3 separate regions of the Homo sapiens genome follow, and regions 1 and 2 are each linked to region 3. The links come from fine-mapping of genetic effects on gene expression. A gene starts in region 3. Each other region holds a variant in brackets. All regions are shown on one strand. Distances are from middle to middle.

Evidence for each region. PIP is the estimated chance that this variant, and not a neighbour inherited with it, causes the effect. A credible set is the group of variants that fine-mapping cannot tell apart.
Region 1: its variant is the best candidate, but not a certain one, in a credible set for the expression of RELL1 in sun-exposed skin (GTEx, PIP 0.77).
Region 2: its variant is the best candidate, but not a certain one, in a credible set for the expression of RELL1 in whole blood (TOPMed, PIP 0.79).

Annotation. Positions count from the first base shown.
Region 1 is chr4:37,712,777-37,718,828 of GRCh38, forward strand. It overlaps LOC105374404 (a long non-coding RNA gene), which reads right to left and starts at 2,310. Exons shown (of 4, transcript XR_925210.1): 1 at 2,095-2,310. The variant A/T (reference allele first, on the strand shown) is at 2,317.
Region 2 is chr4:37,755,336-37,761,387 of GRCh38, forward strand. LOC105374406 (a long non-coding RNA gene) reads left to right here and starts at 5,712. Exons shown (of 3, transcript XR_001741505.2): 1 at 5,712-5,936. The variant G/A (reference allele first, on the strand shown) is at 2,987.
Region 3 is chr4:37,683,076-37,689,127 of GRCh38, forward strand. It overlaps RELL1 (RELT like 1), which reads right to left and starts at 3,301. Exons shown (of 7, transcript NM_001085400.2): 1 at 3,125-3,301. The coding sequence starts at 3,212. RefSeq lists silencers at 2,840-3,509, 3,690-3,999.

The sequences.
Region 1 (6,052 bases), 30 kb after region 3:
GACAGCTTGAATTGGTGGCAGATTAGGGGGTGGGGGAATCCAGGTCATAAGTGGATTCAAAGATTTTTCTGATTGGCATTTGGTTGAAAGAGTTATTATCTAAAGACCTGGACTCAATAGAAAGAAGTTTCTGGGTTAAGATAAGGAGTTGTGGAGACCAAGGTTTTATCATACAGATGAAGCCTCCAGGTAGCACGCTTCAGAGCTCTCATCAGACCTAAAAGCTGCCAGAATCCCCTTCCCTTTCCAGGTATTTTCCCTGATTCAGGAGAGAAGTAGTGTGAAATAGTATCTTTCAAACATTTAAATCTATAGATATAGATACAGTTATAGGGCCGGGAGTAGTGGCTCACCCCTGTAATCCCAGCACTTTGGGAAGCCGAGGCGGGGGGATCACCAGGTCAGGAGATCGAGACCAGCCTGGCTAACACGGTGAAACCCTGTCTCTACTAAAAATACAAAAAAATTAGCTGGGCATGGTGGCGGGCGCCTGTAGTCCCAGCTACTCGGGAGGCTGAGGCAGGAGAATGGCGTGAACCTGGGAGGCGGAGCTTGCAGTGAGCTGAGATCATGCCACTGCACTCCAGCCCAGGCGACAGAGCGAGACTCTGTCTCAAAAAAAAAAAAAAAAAAAAGATACAGTTATATATTTTCCCTATAAGAGACAGCTTTGCAGGACCATTTCAAAATATGTCAAATAAATATATTTTGGGGGAAAATATTTCTTTCAGAGCCTGCTATCTGTCATGCGATGCTCTACTAGAGTCAGGTTGGAATTTGGTGGCTTATTGCTACAAAGGTCTGTTTTGTAGTCTTAAGACCTCTGTTTCAACGTTAATTCTGGTGGTCAGTTGTGCTTGAATTCCAAAGGGAGGTGAGTATAATGGGGCATGTCTAACTCCCCTTCCTACCATGACCTCAACTCATTTTTCAGGTTTACTTTGGAATGCCCTTGGCCAAGAGAGGAGTCCATTAGTTGATTGGGGGGCTTAAAATTTTATATTTGGTTCTCATATCTTGCTAATAGCTTTCGTACATATTACCTAGTCTAATGACACACATTGTCTTTGATAAACATACATCTTTATCAGACTTCTTTATTAAGAAGCTCAGTTTAATAAATTACATCAAATGGGTTGCCAGTGTACCATTTAAAAATTACTCTTTTGTTAAAATTCATTCATTAATATATTTTAAATATGTGCTGGCCTTCTTTTCTGGTAACTGGGCTATCATAGCTATGAAGAAGATGAACGCGTTTCTTGCTGTCTTGGAGCTGACAGTCAAACTGATTAAATAATTCTGGCAACATTTCTTCATGATTGGGAAAAATTAAATTAAGTGCTATGAAACATTTGGTTAGCTGTGTAAGCTGAGGCAACCCAGACAGAACAGCCTGTATCAGAAGACACCAGCTTACCAACCTGACCTGTCCCAATGCCAAGCACAAGAATTGGTAGGACATTTGTTCAGTCCGTTCAGTTCAGGTATTAGCTGGCAGGAACAACACCTGGACTACCTAATTAGGACTAAACACATAATATGGAATAAGAATTACATATCGTTTACTAAGCCCTAATTTAAGTAGACACAGAGACAGCTGGCTTAATGGGGGAGGTTATCCCAAGAAATGCCAATAGGGGAGTAGGGAAGTGACATAGGAAACCAATAAATGACTATTTCCAAGCAAGTTGCCACTAGGTCTAACTAGAGATGAATCCTGCAGGGACCTATGGGGGACAGTGAAGAGCACATCTGAGTTTCCTGGTGAGAGGCAAGGGAGCTAGAATACATATCTGCCACCTCCTACCAGCCATTGGTTGGAGGCTACTGGACAATGGGTATGTGCTGTGTTAGAGAGGTGGTGGGGCAGTGATGGTTGCAGTGAATTCTCTAGCACCTTTGCATGTCCAAGAAAGCCCTAGGGCTTAGGCAAAAGGGTTGCAAATTCTGGCAGTTGCAAGTCTGGCAGGAAATAAGTGCTCAGAGGGGATATTAATGGAACTACCTATATATCCGCCATAACTACCGTTCTGTCCAGTTCTGATGTTCATTCCAAGTTTTCCATACTAATGAATGGAAAAAATCTTTCACCTGATGTGGTTGAAGGCTTATCTTCATGCCCCTTTAAACAAATGCTTTGGTGTATATCATTTGCTATTCCCTTTTCAGCTTCCATTGCCATTCAGGTTCCAGCTTGTTAGCCTTGCTGTGGTAACACCCTTGTATCCCGGCTTTTAATGTTATTGTGTAGAATTTCTCTCCATCTGAAGTATCTCAACATCTTCACTGACTGAATGCCTAAGGAGGATTGTT[A/T]TCCTCCAATGAAAAACAATCCTTGTGAAATGCTTGCACAACTACCACTTTTCCCACAATCACTTTACTGGATTTGCTCTTGCAGTGTCAGCAGGAGGAAATTTATTACACCTACCCTGATTTGGGGCGGGGAAAGAGCATCTTTTGGATTGGAAGAAATTTGGAACTGGCTTTTCTCTCTTTGCAGAAGTGATTGGTTCTCCAACCCTTCCTCTCGGACACTAAGAACCATCCATCCTCCCCAGCTCTAGAACCTGAGGGTTTTTTTCCTATTTAACTCTTTCAGCCGTGAGTAAGCCATCTCTAGGCTTACTTTTTAATATCAGTTTTAGCATTTAATCCTATTTTAGCATTTAATCCTATATTTTCTGGAGAGATGGTATAACATAAGATTCCAACGGTAGGCTCTGGCATCCAATTCCACTGGTGGAAATTCTGGATCCCCACATCTCTGTGGCCTTCATTTTCCATATCCATGGAATATGGGAAATTATCATATCTAGCACATGGAGCTGCCATGAGAATTGAATGGGCTAATACTGTATAGCCCTTAGAAAAGTGCCTGGCACATAGCCCTCAATAACTATGAGCCACTTTTCAATTTGGCCTTGATTAGAACTGATACTTTCTTTTGATGTCAGGAACTTTTCAAGTTTGCCATTTAGCAACTAGAGAGTAAATACAATAATTGTATTGTCACTTTAAGTAAATCAAGAAGCCAGAATAACTTATTTGCCTCATTATATGTCATAAATAATTCAGGACTGAAATTTTTCTTAACTGCCAAAAGGCAGTCAAATTGTAAAACCCCATCCTACTTCTCACCTCTTATCTATATGAACAAAAAAAACTGTGAAATGAACCAGCACAGTCCTGAGTTGCGTCTTCCCTTTCCTAATGAGTCATTTAACTTAAATTACCTAGTTGTTCTTGTGAGGAAAGGAACAGCTGCAAAAAGTTGGCAGGTTTCCAAATGCCTGGCAATGCAATTTAGATAAAAATATAGGTGTTTATGGATGATGACATTATTTGGACCACAAAGTTTTCCTAATCTATGCCCTGGCTAGCAAATGGCTCTGTTCTCCACGCTGTCTGCTGACCTGACTCCTGGCGGGGCTGTGATGTTTTTAGCAAGGTGAAAGAAGCATTATTACAGTCATGCCCTTGGAGTTGACTTCTGCCCATTGACTCATTTTATCCTCACAACAACCTGGTGGAGTACTGGAACAGGTAGTTTTACAGTCACGCTAATGGTTATGCTTAAAACTGTGTAGCTATTTATACTCAATACTAAAAATGGAACCCACTTTTAGGGCCATTTAGACTATAACCATGAGTTCCCTTTTTCTTATCCTATGTTTCTGTGTGGAGACCAAAAAACAATAACAACAACAACGACAGCAACATTACAAAACAAAAACCCTTTGAGTTTGTACCTAGTTTAAGTCATCTGTATCTCAGAAGCTGCCTTCTCTTTTATGGCTTCTTACAAGGTCATCTAGAAACTTGAAAGAGTTTGTTTTTCATCAGGTATTTGTTCCAGAGGAGTGGAAAGAAAATATAGACAGACAAACAGGCTTTCAGAGGGAAACTCAGCTCTGAGATGGTCCCAGGGATGCCAGGCCTCACAGGAATAGGTCCAACAGGAATTGGGGTTCACTCTAAGGTTAAAAAACCAAGGGAGTCAGGGTGCAGTAAGAGGCAAAAACACAGACCTTGGAGTCAGGCCTTGATCAAGTGTTTAATTTCTCTGTGCTTCAATTTCCTCTTCTAGCAAAACTGAGACCTATAATACCAAGAGTACCTACCTTACAGGATGATGAGGATTAGGTATGATAATGTAACTTTAAGGTAGGCACAGCTTTCTTAAACAGCAAACACAAAGAACTAACTGCAAAAGAAAAGATTAATAATTTGAACTTCATTAAAATTAAGAACTTTATTAACTATAAAATGTAATTAGCTGTGTGAAAAGAAAGCCTGACGTATTATATTTTCCAAAGATGGTTGTGACAATATTTCCTATCCATGTACTCATTCAAAACCTTGCCACTGCCTGATTTGAAAAAGGTGCAGTTTGGCCGGGTGCTGTGGCTCACGCCTGAAATCCCAGCACTTTAGGAGGCCAAGGCGGGTGGATCACAAGGTCAGGAGATCGACACCATCCTGGCTAAGACAGTGAAACCCCGTCTCTACTAAAAATACAAAAAATTAGCCGGCTGTGGTGGCGGGCTTCTGTAGTCCCAGCTACTCAGGAGGCTGAGGCAGGAGAATGGCGGGAACCCGGGAGGCGGAGCTTGCAGTGAGCCAAGATGGTGCCACTGCACTCCAGCCTGGGCGACAGAGCGAGACTCCGTCTCAGAAAAAAAAAAAAAAAAAAAAGAAAAAGAGAAAAAAAGAAAGAAAGAAAAAGGTGCAGTTTATGTTCCTCCCTTGAACCTAGATGGATCTCTGTGACTATTTTGACTAATGAAGTGTGGCAGACAAGATTCTATGTGACTTCTGGGGCTAGATAATAAAAGATCATAGTTTTACCTCTCTTGGGACATTCACCCTGGAAACAAACCACAATAATGTGAGGAAATATAAGCCATATGGAGAAGCCCATGTGCATAGGAATGGCAACCTCCATCGCTCTACCCAGCTGACAGTGAGCTCCAACTTTCCAGCCATGTAAGCGAGTCATCTTGGAAGCAACTGTTTCTGCCCGTAGTTGAGTCACCCCTGCTGATGCCATATGGGAGAGAAAAAAGCCTTCTCTGTTAAGCCTTACTCAAAATGCATATAAGCAAAATATATGAATGTTATTATTCTAAACTACCACATGGGGAGGGGGATAGTGTGTTATTCAGCAATGAAGAACCAGGAAGTCTGGCACGTAGAAGCGGGGTGTGCCATAACAAGACCTAAAATATGTGACAGTGGCTTAGGGATGTGGAGTTAGGCGGAAGCTGAATGAGCCTAGGAACTGTTATAGAAGTCTAAAGGGTCTTGAGTATGCTGTTGGCAAAAGCTTGTAAGAAGTGAGGAAAATGTTTGGGACAGCTGGAGGACAGGAGTCTGTTATTATGCAGTGATGCAAAGTTTAGTAACACTCTCACCTGTGGTTCCACTGAAAATAGAAAATAATGAACTAGGTAATATAGCTAAGGGCATTTCCAGGCAGTGTTGTAGGTACTACGTGGCTTCTTCTCACTGTATATAGTAAAACAGGTGAGGAGAAAAGAAACTATATAAAGAAAAGGATAAACTCTTAAGTATAACGGAGCTGGGACTTGTTGGGCTCAAAAATAAAATCGCTCCTCATTTCCAGCCTCTCCAGATGGCAAACAGTGCTAAAATTAAGAAATGGCTTCAGGCAGAGATCAAATCCAGGGCATGATAATGAAAATAGTCTTAAGATGAAACTGAGGGTGGCCAGTAAAATCCTTTGTTAAGACCTCATAGTAGTTTTTCACAGTAGTCTTTGCCTTTCAAACTAAGAAATAGCCCTCTAAAGATCTTAAGACTGTGTTTCTTAGATCCTCTCTATTAAGAAATGAGGATTCTCAGAATCTTAGTTTCCCTATAAAGAGTTCAGTTTTATAGGGAGCCTAGGCATTATATCAGCCTTACAGGAAGCCCACAATAGAGGAGACCTTATCTCAAAATAATTGGAAGTTTTTGAGTTTTTTTTTTTTTTTTTTTTTGGCATAATGTAGTGGATTCTAAATTAACCTGTAAGAAATTCATAGTT
Region 2 (6,052 bases), 72 kb after region 3:
GAGGCCGAGGCGGATCGATCATTTGAGGTCAGAAGTTTGAAACCAGCCTTACCAACATGGTGAAACCCCGTGTCTACTAAAAATTCAAAAATTAGCTGGGCGGTAGTGGCGTGGGTGTGTAATCCCAGCTACTTGGGAGGCTGAGGCAGGAGAATCATTTGAGCCCAGGAGGCAGAGGCTGCAGTGAGCCGAGATCGCACCACTATACTCTAGCCTGAGCGACAGACCGAGACTCAGTCTCAAAAAAAATCAGAAAACAAAAAAGCTGTGATGACTTTATAAAAACCTTTAGAACTCATAATTTAGCTCTCTAACTCTCTTTGCTGTCACAAGTTTTAGTTTTCAATAACTCATTCTAAACATTTTTTCCAAAAGACAGCCAAGGCTATGGGAACAGGAATTTTCTTAAAAGAAAAAGAAAAAAACGGAAGCACCTTTCTTTTGGAGGCTAAAATGTCTCACATCTCAGCTTCTCTCAGTTCTCCAGAAATCTTCTTCCTCTGTGCTCTGGTGGTTCTTGCTCCTTTCAGATTCTGACTTGTATATGGCATTGAATTACCATGTTGCCAATTCCAGCTCTAATTCTTTTTTTTTTTTTTTTTTTTTTTGAGTTAGAGTCTTGCTCTGTCACCCAGGCTGGAGTGCAGTGGCGTGATCTCAGCTCACTGCAACCTCCACCTCCCGGGGTCAAGTGTTTCTCCTGCCTCAGTCCCCAGAGTAGCTGGGACTACAAGTGTATGCCACTCACACCCGGCTAATTTTTTTATTTTTAGTGGAGACAGGGTTTCGCCATGTTGGCCAGGCTGATCTCGAACTCCTGAACTCAAATGATACGCCCGCTTTGGCCTTTCAAGTGCTGGAATTACAGGTGTGAGCCACCACGCCCAGCCTCCAGTTCTAATTCTTAGATTGGTGCAAAAGTAATTGCGGTTTTTGCCATTAAAGGTTTTTGCAGCAAAACCAGTTAGGTAAGAGGTATGGATAATTGTAGTTAGTTATTGCTGCACTCTAGAGCCAATCTTTACCTCAAGTTCTTAAGAAAAATTCTAAAGAAGTGCTCACAAGCCAGTTCATGGTCTCGCCAGGGGTCAGGGGCTACCCGTGGTCCAGTTGACTGTGACTATTCAGAAGATCAAGTCACATACAAGGGTGCCTAAGCCTGTCACTTCAACAGACAGCAGGGAAGGAATCTGTTAGACAAATAATAAAAGAAATACCAATAATAAAAGAAATAAAAGCAATAGGTATCATTTAGCTGTTTTCACGCTAATAAAACGTTAATAAGATTCTCATGTATTTGTAAGATATCAATTGACATAAACCTGCAATTACATTTTGTGTCCTGATCAGAGGGAAAAGGTATGAGGGTGTGAGAGGCAAAATAATGGCCTCCCAAAGATGGCCACCTCTCAATGTCCAGAACCTGTGAATATGTCACCTTACATGGTGATATGGTTTGGTTATGTGTTCCCACCCAAATCTCATCTCGAATTGTAATCCCTGTAATCCCCAAGTGTCTAGGGAGATACGTGGTGGGAGGTGATTGGATCATGGGGGCGGTTTTTGACTGCTGTTCTTGGGATAGTGAGTGAGTTCTCACGAGATCTGAGGGTTCCATAAGGCAGTTTTCCCTACTCTTGCTTGCTTTCTCTCTCACCTGCCACCATGTAAAATGTGCCTCCCTTCCCTTCTGCCATGATTATGAGTTTCCTGAGGCCTCCCCAGCCATGTGGAACTGTGAGTCAATTAAACCTATTTTCTTTATAAATTACCCAGTCTCGGGTATGTCTTTATAGCAACGTGAGAATGAACTAATACACATGGCAAAGGGGAATGAAGGTTGCAAATCAGCTATTTTACAACAGGAAGTTTCTCTTGGATCGTCTGGAGGGGCCCAGTATAATCCCAAGGGTCCTTCAGTGTGAAAAAGGGAGGCTCAGAGGCGATGTGATGGAATGTGAGATAGGCTACAGGCCATGGTGACTTTGAAGATGGGAGGGGGCCCTAAACCACAGAATGCGGCTGGCCTCCAGAAGCTGGAAAAGGCAGGAACTCAGACCTTCCCCTAGAGCCTCCAGAGAGGGAGGCAGTCCTGCCCACACCTGGATTTTAGCCCAGTGAGACCCATTTTGAATTTTTTTGCCTCCAGAATCGTAAGATAATAAACCTGTGTTGTTTTAAGCCACTAACTTTGCCGTAATTTGTTATGGCAGCAATAGAAAAATAATACAAGGGATAAGATAGGTACAATTATGTGCTGTAAATATATTCTCCTTCAGCCCAGACAACACAACCATAAGTTAGCATTATTATCTCTCTCTTTCTAATAAGGAAATATAGGCTAAAAGATCATATAGGTAGTAAGCAGCAGAACTGTTTGGTTCTTGAATTCTTTCAAGCAAATTGTAAGTGCCTTTTCAGAAGACAGTCTTTGGAGCAGTGGTTCCAAAATGTAGCTGTACATTTAAATCATTTGGCATCTTTAAAATATTCTGATGCCGGGTTTGCATGCCCAGGCATTGCCATTTCATTGGCAGGCGATGCAACCAGGCCATCAGGAATTCAGAAGCTCCCCAAGTGATTCTAATGTGCGGCAAAGTTGAGCAACCAATATTCTGGAGGAAGGTATATAGTGCCTTGATGTTAAACGGAGACATTACAGTTACTTTCCCTGCCTGAAGTGGCTTCTTTTTCTGTGGTTCCCACCTGGGCTGCCCAATTCAATCATCTTGAGGCTTCTAGAACATACTTATACTGGCTTCTCCCTTATAGATTCTGATCCAATGATCTAAATTTGGACCAGGATATAGTTTTAAAGCTCCCCAGATGATTCTAAAATTTAATCAGAGTTGAAACCCCCTATATAAGGAGGACACAATGGAATCCTACCTGTTTTGTAAGTTATTTTGAAAACTCTAGGTATTGGTGGAAAGGAAAGGAGGTTTGCATAGCAAAGCTGAGTGTTTCCAGCTGCCCCTGACAGGAA[G/A]TGTTGACACATATTTGCAGAACTTCTCCATCAGCATTGAGCAAGTTTGTGCTGTTTTTGAAGAACAGCCAAATAGCCAAATGAACACTTGTAACCTAGGATTCATAAGAAATACAAAAAACAAAGTGTGTTGAAGGTATTTTAGCAATAGTGATATGAAGCTGTCTTGAGTTGCCCTTGAGCATGCAAGACGGATAAGGTTGTTGTCCTTAAGGACTCAGCCATTCAGTGAAAAATTGCTGCAGACAAGGATATGTGGATGGTGCAACATTATCTCCCCCACAGGTTTCTAATTGCAAAGGGAAAAAAAATACCATTTCTGCAAAGAGGGAAAAAATTAAATTTCAATGGAAAGTTTTGTTCTGGCAGTTACCAGCCACATCAATGGACGATTTCAGTCTCAATCTCAACATTATGTTTCTCGAGTTATTTCGGTGGCTTTCCTCAGGGTCATCTGAGGAAATGGGTCACCCTCTGGACACCAGCTAGAGTTACCTTACCCCCTATTGCAAGTGGCTGATACCTTACTTTTGTCAGAAACACAGGTAAAAGACAAAGTAATATGTGTGAACATAGCGTGATCTGATTGAGATTTTAATTGCATACTGTAATTTATGTATCCAAATGTTGTCTTCAAAAGCCTTGGACAACACAGGTTTGGAAGTCTGCCTTTTAGGCTCACCTGGAGAGTCTAATTTACATTCTTCTTTGTAAATTACATTTCTATGTAATTTACATTCCTTTGTGTTTGAAGGGCATATTTGATTTGTGTGAACAGCTAAATATCACTGAGGGTCACATGTGCTAAATAAAGTAATTAAGCAAACACAGGAATGCCCCTTCTGGCCAAACACAAAGTATGATTGTGCATGGCAATATTTATTTTCTAAAATAAACTAGTTCTGATAAAATTACATTTAAAATTCAATTCAAAATGTTTTAGACATGCTAATGATACTTGAAAGACATTATAAGGCCAGTGCTTTGGATGGTCCATTGCTCCCTTGGATGCCTAAGTTTGAATACTAGGCTGGGCACAGTGGCTCATGCCTGTAATCCTAGCATTTTGGGAGGCTGAGACAGATGGATCCCTTGAACCGAGGAGTTCAAGACCAGCCTGGGCAACATGGCAAAACCTCCTCTCTACAAAAGATACAAAAATTAGCCAGGTGTAGTGGTGTGTGTCTGTAGTCCCAGCTACTTGGGGGGCTGGGGTAGGAGGATCACATGAACCCGGGAGGTCGAGGTTGCAGTCAACCGAAATTGCACCACTGCACTCCAGCACGGGTAACAGAGTGAGACCCTGTCTCAAAAAAATAATAATAATAATAAATAAATAAATAATATGTTTGAATCCTGACTGTAATCATTAGCCAAGAAATCTTTATGAAACTCAGTTTTCTAATCTGTAAAATAGGAGTAACATGCCTACCTAAAACAGTTACAAAGTCTAAATAAGTTAATACATGCAAAGCACTTAGAAGAGTGCCTAGCATCTAGTAAGCCTCAATAAATGTTATCCAATCTTGTAAGTATTATTACTACTATTCATCAGACATTCCCTTGAGTAAGATGGTCCTTTCCACTGCCAATGAAAGAAGGCTAATTTGAAATAACTTTACTCAAAAGTGGAAATAAGAGGATCATCTGGCTGGGAAGTCCAAGTGCAGGGACAGCTTCAGGTATGGCTAGATCTAGGATTAAAACAATGGCATTAAGGCCCTCTCTTCTCCATTGCTCAGCTCTGCTTTTTCTCCAGTGGTGGGTAACGCAGCCTCTCTCCACAAGGTGGGCAAATTGTCCACTGGCAGTTAGGTGACACCCTGAGCCTCAAGCACTATTATCCACAATTTCAGAGAAAGAGGCCCTGTCTTCTCCAGCAGACATGCATCATTATTCAAGGGTGACTCCAAGGGGTCTTCTTGGGTCCTTGCCCACGCCTGAGCAAATTGCTGTGCTCAGAGATGGAGTACTAAGATCAGCTAGTGTGGGGCCCAAGGTTACTCCTGAGGCAGAGGTGTAAGAGTTACTCCAGGAGCTCATGGAGTGGGGGAGGAGAACAGTTACCAAAAGGAGTCATGTGGACAAAGACATGTCTGCTCTCTCAGGACTGAACATCCTGCTTCAGTTTGTTCCACATCCATTTATGTATCATTTGTATTTGATCATATGTATCACCTGATAGTTACCATTTTTTGATCAGTTACTGTATGTCAGGAACTACTCTAGGAGCTGTACATAAAAGCTAAATGTAATAATAGCTAAACCTGAATGAATATTTGATACATGCCAGATTCTAAAATATGTATTCTAAACGTATTCTTATTTAATCTCCCCAATAACACCATGAGGTAAACACTATTATCATCCCCAGTTGAGAACACTGAGGTTCAGAGGACTTAGGAACGTGCCCAAAGCCATACCTCTGAGTGACAGAGCCAGAATTTGGACCTAAGGGAATCTGACCACAGGGCCGTTGTTCTTCATGTTCTGACCATTTTACTCTCATAAAAATCCCATGAGGTAATGTCTTATTAAAACCACTGTATTACAGGCAATGAGATAAGACTCAAAGAGGTTAAGCAAATTACTCAAGGTCATGTTCAGGCACTATGCTATGCAATTGTGAGCCAGAGATGGAGACATAGCCCCTGACAAGGCTGTTGTGTGTGGTTGCCCAGCTTGAGCACTGCACAAAATTGCCTCATCCATTGCAGAGGGCAAAGGAGGATGAGGCTTGAAATTTAGCCCAAGTTCTGCTCATAAACCTTGGCCCTGACCCTGGCTACATTGCACAAATTCTACAAGCCAAGATGTGTCTATGAAGCTGACGCTAACCAGAGGCGGAAGAGCATTACAAATTGAGTGAAGCTCCTAGTTGGGTTAACGGCAGCCCTGGCCCCAGGATCTCAAAAGCAGCCTGAAAAGCAGATGATGACAATGGAACATGGTAAGTACTGAGCAAGAGACTTCCCCAGAGAGCTAAGTGACCCAGGACAGGGGCATGTGGCTGCTCACCCTGCCACATCCAGACTTAAACAGGTCCAGTGGGCCACCTAGTCTGGT
Region 3 (6,052 bases):
TTGCCACTACCCACCGTGAAGCTATCTGCCCTTCTTTTCTCTACTTGACAACTTCTGATAACCACATGCTTACAATTTTATGACGTTCTAAACTATCTTAGAATCTCAGCGAGATTGCAGAGGTTGACTCATATTCTATTTTTCCTCTGCAGAGCAGTGGGGTACAGTGGAAAGGGAATGAACTTTGGAATCAAGCAGGCTGGGTTATCCCAGATAAAGATACATATAAAGGTACACACATACACAGACACCTCCTAGTGGTTCTGCTTCTCTGAATGCTGACTGGCACAGTACCTATGTGATGTTCAGCCAGTTGTTTAACCTCTCTTGCCTCAGTTGCCTTACTGGAAGTAAGTATTTCACAGGGTTATGAGCAATGAGTTTAAAAATGCCTATGAAGGCTGGGCGCGGTGGCTCACACCTGTAATCCCTGCACTTTGGGAGGTCGAGAAGGGCGGATCACTTGAGGTCAGGAGTTACAAACCAGCATAGCCAACATGGGGAAGCCCCGATTCTACTAAAAAATACAAAAATTTGCCAGGCATGGTGGCGGGCGCCTATAATCCCAGCTACTAGGGAGGCTGAGGCAGGAGAATTGCTTGAGCCTGGGAGGTGGAGGTTGTAGTGAGCTGAGATCGCACCACTGCACCTCAGCCTGGGAGTCAGAGCAAGACTCTGTCTCAAAAAACAATAAAAATAAAAATAAATAAACAAATAAAAATGCGGCCGGGCGCGGTGGCTCACGCCTGTAATCCCAGCACTTTGGGAGGCCAAGGTGGGCGGATCACGAGGTCAGGAGATGGAGACCATCCTGGCTAACACGGTGAAACCCCGTCTCTACTAAAAATATAAAAAATTAGCCAGGCATGGTGGCGGGCGCCTGTAGTCCCAGCTACTCTGGAGGCTGAGGCAGGAGAATGGCGTGAACCCGGGAGGCGGAGCTTGCAGTGAGATCGCGCCACTGCACTCCAGCCTGGGCGACAGAGCAAGACTCCGTCTCAAAAAGAAAAAAATAAATAAAAATAAAAATGCATACAAAGTACTCAACCCAAAGCCTGGCACACAGCAGGCACTCAACAGTATTTCCCATTCCTTTCCCTCTACTTCCCTATGCTCAAGGTACAAACATTAACACCATCTTTGGTTGCAAGGGGATCAGATGTTGGCTGGTCAGAGCATCTTCTCTTTACACACGCCTCAAGATACTGGCAAATTTGTGCTCTGTATCCTTTCCTTTTTAGACACCTGTTTCTTCTTCCGCATTAATTTTCATCAAAAAAAAAAAAAGGCTGTCATGCAATTAGATGAGAGCTTTCATCAGTCACATTCTAGTCCTGAGACCTGGGTGTTGCTCAGAGGTCAAACCAAACACACACCCACTCTAGGGATGGATTTCTCCTGCTGATGATGGCTAATTACATGCATCATGTGCTGAATTTTTAATAATTTTACTCCCAGATTAAACTCTTCCCCAGATTCTGTTGCAACTGACTCTAACCCTCTAATGAATGTCTCCAACCTCACATCCAAGTGGAACCTGATTATGCACCTATGTGTCCCAGCAATCAAACGCAGGATGAAAATCAAAATGAACCAGCAGGGCATGGTGGCTCATGCCTGTAATACCAGCACTTTGGGAGGCCGAGGCAGGAGGATCACTTGAGGTCGGGAGTTCGAGACCAGCCTGGCCAATATGGCAAAACCCCATCTCTACTAAAAATACAAAAATTAGCCGGGCATGGTGGCACATGCCTGTAATCCCAGCTGCTCAGAAGGCTGAGGCAGGAGAATCACTTGAACCAGAGAGCTGGAGGTTGCAGTGAGCCGAGGTTGTGCCACTGCACTCCAGTCTGGGTGACAAAATGAGCCCCTGTATCAAAATAAGGAAAAGAAAAAAAAAATTGTCCCATCCAGTAAAACATGTCACTAGCTGCCATTTCCCCAGGTGGATGGCTAACGGAAATACGGGCCTGCTAAAAAGACTCAGGAGACAATATTATCCATCTCCTTCCCTTCCAACCTGCTCTGGTTTCTATGAAAAAGTGAAGGCCAAACTGCTAAGTCAGTGTAAAAGTTGTAAGCGACTGAAATGTTCTCAGGAGGAAGAGTTTATGGATGTTTATGGAGGAGACAGTCACTGTTGAAAGGCTTCCAGTTGCTTATTATTTGGGCCTGAGGAGGAACCACCGCTGAAATCAAGCTTGGAAGAGCTTGCTGACGTCAGATTCCCAGCTGTAGTAACCCCAAATGGCCAAGTAAGTATGTTTTTTTTTTAACTGCAGCTGTTAGGTGGCAATTAAGAGGGGAAGCGGTGGTAAGGAATCCCTAGTGTCTGTAATTATAAAAGCAAGGATGTGACATAGGACTTCCATAAAACTTACACCTCCTCTTAAGATTGATTTCAATTAAAAACTGCTTCATCGTTGGTGACACTTTAGCATCTCTGTTGGTGGCTTCCTGCCCTGACCACACAAGGTTCCTTTCGTGACGACAGGAATCAACAAAAAGAAGAAAAAAATGTAAGTTTACCAACGCGCCTTCCCTTTTTCCGAGCCTGATTTATACAGGATATATGGGAAGAAATGTGGACTCCTTGACCTGTTACAAGAATCCATCAACCACCCAAATAAATGGAAACGTGGAAAGAGATTCAAAGTCCTCCAGGTTTTAGGATATTTTAAGGTATTTAAAAGGGAGAAGGAGGCGCCGACAGCGCACCCGGTGCTCTGTGTCACGATCTTCCGCTCGCGGCGCCTTTGAGGACAAGGGCGGCGGGAAACGGGTCCGCGGGGTTCCGAGGCGAGCGGCCGTGGAGGAAGCGCCCCCGAAGAAGGCCTGGTCCCTACGCCCCGCACTGCCCAGCGCTGGGGAACACAGATCCTCGGAGGAGGCCCCAGGGAGGGAAGGCGGGAGCGGGGCCCGCGGGAGGGGAGGGACGGGAGCCGTTGCCACGCACCGCGCCCTGCCCGGACCGCCGCGGGACAGCCAGTTGTTCAGTGCCGGGATCCCGCGGCTGTGCCAGAAAGCAGGACGCCGCGGGGCTGCCGTCCCGACCCCTCGCTTCCTTCCGCGCTCCCGGGACCGGGCTCAGCACCCGGCGCCCCGGCTACGACCGGACACTCACCCGGAGCCACCAGCGGCGAACTCACGGCGCCTCCCACGAAGACAGCAGCGGCTAGGACGGCGGACCCCGGGAGTGCCCGCGGAGCCATCGCCGCGTCGCTTCGCCCTCCTCCCCCAGGGCGCCGCGTCCCGCGCTCGGGAAGGCAGAGCCGCTCCGGAGCCGGCGGGCTGATCGAGTGGCTGGGCTGGGCCCCAGGGAGCGGCGAACCCCGCCCCGCCATTGCCCCGCCCCACGCCACACCCACCTCGGCTCGGTCCCGCCTCTCCCCGCGCGCCCCGGGCTCCACCTAAGCCGGCACGAGGTCCACTCATGGCTCCGCCCCCGACTCCCCGCCCACCTCAGCCTGATCCCGCCTCTCCCTGCCATTCCCGCTTCCTTTCCAAACCCCGCAGCAGCCTCAGCGGCGTAGCTAGGCCATGGACACGCCCTCTTTCTCCACCCACCTCAGCTTGGCCCCGCCTCTCCCTACCGAGCCCCGGACTCCACCTAAGAAGGCACGTGGCCCATCCATGGCCCCGCCCTTTTCCCCACCCACAGCTCAGCCCGACCCCTCCTCTCCCGCTTCCTTTCCAAACCCAGCAGCAGCCTTGGCGGCGCAGTTAGGCTATAGCCCCGCCCTTGCGCCCTGCCCACCGTGGCCCGGCCGTGCCTCTACTTGCCAGGCCCGCTTCCTTTCCAAGCCGGGCCGGGATTACGCGGGAGCCCGGGGCGGGGGGAGGGTCGCCCGGGTGCAACCTCCCTCGGTCGCTGGGACTAGGCGGGCGTGGGAAGAGAAAGAGGGAGCGCGCCCCGAGAAGCACTGGACAGTCAGAAGCGGCCAGCACTGGAGTGAGCACAGGCTTTTTTCGCTGTTGGCATGTCTATCCACTAGCATTCCCCTCGGTTGCAGATCTAGGGAGTGATGCTGTGCTGGATGTCACGTTCTGTTGTTTGGAAATTAGCAGAAAAGATAACTTAAATTTCTTCCTCTGTTTGTTTGCATTTAAGCTGCTCCTATTGGGGAAAATACCTCTATGCATTTTCAGGAACAACTTGCCTTTTTTTTTTAATCGTGTGCTTGTATTGCACCTTGCGCATACTCCCGCAAAGTAGGTCTTTCAATGCCCAGACGCTTATTATCTCCTCACATCCTCACATCAGCTCTGCGAGGTGACTATTAGAGGCCAGGGAGTAAACCCACGATGTCTGGGCCACCATGATAAATTGTAATTATCTCATTGTCATTGTGTTTGCTCGCTGCTGTGCCCTCAGCGCCTGGATGGAGGACAGACAGCACACGCTAAGAGGTCAGAAGTGTTTTCTGAAGTTGAATCATCTTCACAAGCATTAATAGGACTCAGAGGCTCTCTCTGAATAGTTCCTTTTTACTGCCCTGTAGAGACTGTTGTTACTGGGCCATCAAGCATTTGCTTGAAGGAAATTAGGGCAGGACTTGAGCAAATACTCAACACCAGCAAGAAGAGGGGGTGCATGGAGGCTGTGGGTTTTCACAGGATGGGTCTCATCCTTGAGGTGACTGATAACCTCTAGTTTTCAGAGGACTATTTATTCTCTCACCGAGTCCTCCACGCAGTCTGCTGGACTATTATTACAAACATTGCATTGATGTGGGAATTGCCAGTGACAGAAGCTCAGGCCACTACAGTACAGATGGCTGAGGCTGAAGGATGGAGCCCCTGCCCTTTGAAGCCCAAGGAGGGCACTGCGCGTCCTGCGCTCAGTTGGCAGCGCATCCTACAGTCTGGCAGTCTTAGCAGGCAGCCTTTGCTAGTTTTATATCAACATAAACATTGAGAATGTGTGCGGAGGAAAGCGATCCATGTGGATTTCTAACTAAAACAGGAGAGAATCCCGGACCTAGAAATTAAACTATAAATTAGAAGTTGTAGCCAGAACCAGCTATAAAATTTGCAGGGCACAATGCAAAATGAAAAGGCAGGGCCTTCTGTTCAAAAATCGTTAAGAATTTCAAGATGGCAACAACACAACATTAAATCGATTGTGGAGCCCTCCTAAACACACAGTTGCACAGGTCACACACTTATAAAGCCAGCTCTGGTTTTGTAAGTTAGAATGTAACAAAATGCTTGAATCAAGAAATCTAATCAAAATGTAAAATGTCATTTCAAAATTGAATCATGTTTCACTCTTTTCCCACAGATTGGACTTAGTATTAAAAAGATGGGATCGTTTTTGGCTGGGCGCAGTAGCTCAAGCCTGTAATCCCAGCACTTTGGGAGGCCGAAGCAGGCAGATCACGAGGTCAGGAGATCGTAGACCATCCTGGCTAACACGGTGAAACCCCATCTGTACTAAAAATACAAAAAAGTAGCCAGGCGTGGTGGCGGGCGCCTGTAGTCCCAGCTACTCGGGAGGCTGAGGCAGGAGAATGGCGTGAACCCGGGAGGCGGAACTTGCAGTGAGCCGAGATTGTGCCACTGCACTGCAGCCTGGGCAACAGAGCGAGACTCCGTCTCAAAAGAAAAAAAGAAAAAAAAAAAAGAAAGACGGGATCATTTTTAACAACACATTTGAATTGTATATCTGTTATGGCTCTTCAAATATAAAAATCTAGTACTTAAGCCTTACCCATTATCTACCAGGCCCTTTGTTTTACAGATGAGAGATGGTTAAGTGATCTGCCTGACATATCTACTATGAGCCAGGGTTGAAACCCAGGGCTCTGAAATTTCTCTTCCTAAACTTTCCATAACACCTGCTTGACACACTCTCTATAAATGTCTTACTTTCACGTACCCCGTATACATGCATTTGTATGTCTTGTTAAAGGAATGAAGGAAGGGTAGGAGGAAGAGAGGGGGAGGGACGGAGGAAAGTGAAGAAGGGAAGGAGAGAGGAAAGAAAGAAAATCAAGCTTAAATTATTTTCCATATCCTTAACCCTACAGATTTATTCATACAATTTAAA